Linked DNA regions of Homo sapiens: region 1 is linked to region 2. The links come from fine-mapping of genetic effects on gene expression. Tissue or cell type: whole blood. Region 2 holds a variant in brackets; the other region holds the start of a gene. All regions are shown on one strand. Distances are from middle to middle.

Region 1 (2,606 bases), 55 kb before region 2:
AGCCCATCTCACCACATCCGTCCCAAGCCCTTTGAGCCAGCCAACCCCAACCTGCCATGTACTTTACAAAATGCTCCTTTTTTTTCCACAGTCGACTGCTTCTCTGTCCCTGGAGCTCTCCCCTTTATTCTCCAAGGTCACCTTGAGCACATCCTTCTGCTCCGTGAAATCCATTCTCCTCTCCCTTTCCCTCCCTCTGAGCTTAACCAGCTGCCACCGCAGGCTTCTGCCTTTCTTCACAGTGTGGCCAGAACTCGGTTCTGCCTGCTAGCAGAGGGCAGGGCCGCTGTCTTCCTCTCCTTGCAGCCCCCAAGCCTAGCACATGCCTGGCATCTAGTGGCAGCACAATAAGGAACCTGATGAATACTCCTTTCTTCTGCTCTCCGCTCCTCCTCCACAGCCTGCCAGCCATGGTCAGGAAGAGCAAGATCCGGAATGGGCTTGGTGTGTCCCGCGGGAAGGCCGTGATCCTGGAAGATGCTTCTCAGCCCAGCCCGGATCTCCTTCCTTTAGCTCTAGAGACTTCTTTCATTCTTTGTGTACACACATACACTAAGACTCAGGAAGTGGTTCTTGAGGCAGGACCTTAAGAGCCCAAGGAGTGGGGCCGAGGCTGGAGGTGTGGGGGTGTGACGGCCGGTCCTACTCTCCGGCCTGTTCAGATCAGCTCCTTCTGGGGACCACCCCTGGCACACAAGGGAGGGAGGCAGCTTGATCCCCCTAGCCCGCTTCCAGCCCTCACCTGGCTTTGTCTTCTGGGATAAGACGGGGAAATCCAGAGGATGTAAGCCTCTCCTGCCTTCGTGTCTTCCCCCAAGCCCTCGCTATCACAGACGGATGCAGGAGCTGTCTGGGAGGCTGGAAGCACAGACCTTGTCAATCCTCCCCCAGAGGGCGGGACCCGACGCGGACGTGTCTTGATTGACTGGGTAGCGTGGCTTCGGGGAAGGGCTTCCTCCCCTTTTCTCAGACTAGGATCCCTGGAAAATGGAGAAGCTGTGCTAATAGAGGGGGGCCAGAAATCCCCACTCTAGAATGCTGTAGAATGTTGGGAGACACCCAGGATGTGAGCCAGGGACTTTCTGGAAGTGTTTGTTCTGGCCCCACCCGACCCCAGGCAGTCCCCAGCTGTCTGCACAGTCGGATGGGGAGGGGGCTTGCACAGAGTTGGAGCCAGAGGAGAGAGCTGGCTCATCCCCTACGGTAGGATGGGGAAACCTCACAGACCACATTGTCACCCGGCCTCAGCTCTCCGCCCCGGCGCTCAGAGGGTAACTCTCACCCACCTCGTCCGCTTCTCTGAACCAGAGTGACCCAGGCTGCGCTCCGCCCCGCTCTCCTACCCCGAGTTGGCACGGAGGTATAGCGCCAGAGGGGGGCCCCAGGCGCCCCGAGGTCTTGCCCTTGCGGCTTTCCCTTTGCGGGGGTGGGCGCCTTCTTCCGGGTAGGGGCCACGTGGCCCTGGCCGGGCGGGGGGCTCGGCCCACCCCGCGCCGGGCCCAGTGACTCAGGCCGCAGCTGTTACCGCGTCACATGAGGGAGGCCGGCGGCCACTCGGCGGGGGAGGGGACCGTGGCTGGAGCCCGGGGCGGGGCCGCGCGGCAGGCGGGGCGGGAGCCGGGGGGCGCAGCTAGAGAGCCCCGGAGCCGCGGCGGGAGAGGAACGCGCAGCCAGCCTTGGGAAGCCCAGGTGAGGCCGCGGGGACCCGGCGGACTTCGGCGCGGGCTGGGAGAGACCACCCGCAGTCCCTTCCTCCAGGGCTCGCCCCAGGCCCGCGGAGACTCGTCCGGCGCTCTCCAGCCGCCCTGGAGCAACTTTGCTTCGAAGTTCCCTGGGCCCGGGCAGGGTGTGGCGGGGGTGCTGGCTGCACTTTTTTTTTTTTTGGTGGGCGGGGAGGTCAGAGCCCAGGGGAAAGGGGCTGGGGCGGGGGTCGGGGTTGGGCTGAAGACCGTTTCTCCAGGCTGGGTGTTGGGTGGGGAAAGGGTGTTTGACGCCCGGAGACTGGCGGGCCGAGGGTCGGCGTCAGGCTCAAGCCCCTGCCGGCGCCCTTGGATCTGTCCTGGGCCCCAGAGGCGGCGGGGCGGGGTCCGGGCTTCGCGGCCGTCGCCCCCACCCCTCTCCTGCGGGTAAAGAGGGGGCTGGGAGACGTGGATCCGACCGCGGGTTTCCGGGTGGGAGGGGCCGGGAATCGGGGCCGTGAAGGGAAGCCCTCGAGGGCCGGCCGGGAGCCCGGAAACCGAGGTCCCCCTTCGGCCAGTTTTAATCCCCCCGCCCTCCCCTCTGCCCCAGGCCCGGCAGCCATGGCGGTGGAAGGAGGAATGAAATGTGTGAAGTTCTTGCTCTACGTCCTCCTGCTGGCCTTTTGCGTGAGTGGCGAGGGGTCCTGGGGGGCGCGCCGGCAGGGTGCGGGGAGACCTGGCTCCACAGTGGTGAGGGCTGAGGGAATGAGAATTAAGGCAGCTGGAGACCAGATGTGGAAAGAAAGCCAGGGAAAGACAGCGCAGCCACTCCCTCCTCCAGTTTTCCTGGACACCTGAGGCTTGTTTCCACCGAGAATGGCCATCCTGGGTGTGCAGCAACCCCTACCCCCATCCCTCCTGGCCCTT
Region 2 (2,758 bases):
ATAACACGAGCAGATGACTCAAGAATTATGACTTTGGGCGGGCGTGGTGGCTCGTGCCTGTAATCCAAGTACTTTGGGAGGCCGAGAGGAAATGACTGCTTGAGCCCAGGAGTTTGAGACCAGCTTGGGCAACATAGGCTGTTGTTTTTCTCTACAAAAAATAAAAAAATTAGCCAATTAGCCGGGTGTGGTGGCATGCGCCTGTAGCCCCAGCTACTTAGGAGGCAGAGGCAAGGGGATTGCTTGAGCCTGCAAGTTCAGGGTTACAGTGAACCATGACTGGGTCAGTGTACTCCAGCCTGGGAGACAGAGAGAGACCCTGTCTCTAAAAACAAAACAAAACAAAACAAAGAAACCCGAAACTATTATTATCAAGCCTATTAATTATTTCCACATGCCAGGTCCAGTGAATATTCCCTGTTCTCATCTTATCTGACTTTTCAACAGCTTCAGAAATAGTTGGCTACTATTTCTTCTTGAAAAATTCTCTCATCTAGGCTGTCCTAACATAACAGTCTTCTTGTTTCTATAACATTCCCGTGGCTGTTACTTCTTAGAAACTTCTTTTTTTAGATCTTTCTCATCTACTCGACCTTTAAATTTTGTTTCTTTGGGTTTAGTCTTGGGTCTTTCTCTGTCTAAATTCTCTCATTAAATAACCTCATCTTTTTTTTTTTAATATAGACTTTATTTTTTAGAGCAGTTTTAGCTTCATAGAAAAGTTGAGGAAAGTACAGAGATTTTCCACATACCCTTTGTCCTCACACATGACTAGCCTTCCTCATTATCAGTATCCCCCACCAGAGTGGACATTTATTACAATTGATGAACCTACATTGACACATAATTTTCACCAAATCCCATCCATTTTCATGGTTTAAAATGCCATGTATATGCAAATTATTCACACATTTATATCTTTAGTGCAGATCCTTCCTTTGAGTTTCAAATTTGTATACCCAGTTGTGTACTTGATCCTCCTCCTCAGCATATCTTCTGGACATATAAAACTTAACATGTCCAAAATGACACTTACGGTACTCCCCAAGTCTCTTGTCTTACTCTGCCCATCTTCTTCATCATCTCAGTGAATGGCACCATTAGCTTCTTGATTGCTCAACCAAAAACCTAGGATTTATTCTATTTCTTCTCTGTCTCCTCCTTTTCTTTTCTCATTTCTAACTTTGTATAATGGAGAATTTTGAATATACACAAAAGTTGGCAGAACAGTATAAGATACCCCCATGTATACATCATTCATCCCAACAACTATCAACCCACAGCCAATCCTTCCCCATCCACATCCTTTTCTACTTTCTGCTTCCTTCTCCTGTGTGTCATTTTGAAGCAAATCCCAAACATCATGTCATTTCATCTCCATCTGTATCTCTCTATAACATATATATGACTTTCTTTTCTTTTCTTTTTTTTTGAGGCAGAGTCCCGCTCTTTTGCTAGGCTGGAGTGCAGTGGG[G/A]CGATCTCGGCTCACTGCAACCTCCGCCTCCTGGGTTCAAGCAATTCTCCTGCCTCAGCCTCCTGAGTAGCTGGGACTACAGGCACGCACCACCACACCCAGCTAATTTTTGTATTTTTAGTAGAGACAGGGTTTCACCATGTTGACCAGGATGGTCTCGATCTCTTGACCTCGTGATCTGCCTGCCTTGGCCTCCAAAAGTGCTGGGATTACAGGTGTGAGCCACCGCGCCCGGCCAATATATATATAACTTTCAAGTTACTCACAAGTCCTGTCAGCTCTATTTCCCAGTTCATTAATTTCATGCATTTCTTTCATCTCCACTGGCATAACCCTAGACCAGATCATGACCCTCCGCTGCCTGGCCCACTGCAAGGGCCTCATTAACTGTCTCTCCACTTTCACCCACTGCTTAAAACCTTTTAGTGGATTCCCATTATCTTTGGTACAAAATCTGAACTCCTTACTGTAGCCCATAAGGCCCTGTGTGATCTGGCCCCTGTCCACCTCTCATGCTACCCTCCCTTAACCCTGTGTTTTAGCTATACAATCTTCTTTCAGTTCCTCATACTCTCACTCCTTTTAGCTTCAGTGCTGTTGAGCTTGTCTTCCTCTTCCTGATATGCTTGCTTTCTTTTCAGCAGTCCCTCCTCCCTCCTGCCTAGTTAATTTTTTAACTCATTGTTTGGTTCTTGTATCAAGCATCCCTTCCCTTATTCATTTTGGTCAACAGCCCTTAGGCCAGTTTGTGATACTGTTCATGACTGTTATTATGGTATTAGTGTCTGCCCATGAGCTCCATAACAGTAAGGATTGTGTCCTTTTCCCTTATCACCACGTGTTTAGCATCTAGCATGTGCCTGGCAAGTAGTAGACACTAAAAATGTGTATGTCAAATAGATGATGAATACCTTTATCACATTTAAGCTTTTAAATTTTTCTATATTTTAATTTAATTTTATAGATGGTGTATCACTCTGTTGTGTAGGCTGGAGTGCAGTGGCTATTCATATGTGTGATTACAGCACTGTGGCCTCGAACTCCTGCCCTCAAGGGATCCTCCTGCCTCAGCCTCCTGAGTACCTGGGACTACAGGTGTGCACCACCAGGCCTGGCTTGTCTATATTTTAAAATTGGCTGTCTCCTCTAGCATGTTAGCTCTACAATGCCAGAGTATATTTTTCTCTTCATGGTAATATCTTCAGGGCCATTTCTAGTGCCTGTTTCAGGGACCACTCAATACACATTTAGTAGATGTATTAATGAAAGGTCCATATCATTGAG

What was found. PIP is the estimated chance that this variant, and not a neighbour inherited with it, causes the effect.
Region 1: it holds the start of CD63-AS1, and the variant in region 2 is fine-mapped to the expression of CD63-AS1 in whole blood (TOPMed, PIP above 0.99).

What each region holds. Positions count from the first base shown.
Region 1 is chr12:55,728,036-55,730,641 of GRCh38, reverse strand. CD63-AS1 (CD63 antisense RNA 1) reads right to left here and starts at 1,548. Exons shown (of 2, transcript NR_183514.1): 1 at 1,287-1,548; 2 at 1-980. It overlaps CD63 (CD63 molecule), which reads left to right and starts at 1,633. Exons shown (of 8, transcript NM_001780.6): 1 at 1,633-1,689; 2 at 2,290-2,366. The coding sequence starts at 2,301. RefSeq lists silencers at 1,287-1,666, 1,937-2,236 and an enhancer at 1,201-1,807.
Region 2 is chr12:55,673,136-55,675,893 of GRCh38, reverse strand. No RefSeq gene overlaps it. Among named protein-coding and RNA genes, the nearest start is that of TMT1B, 7.2 kb to the left of the region's middle. RefSeq lists an enhancer at 2,137-2,276. The variant G/A (reference allele first, on the strand shown) is at 1,475.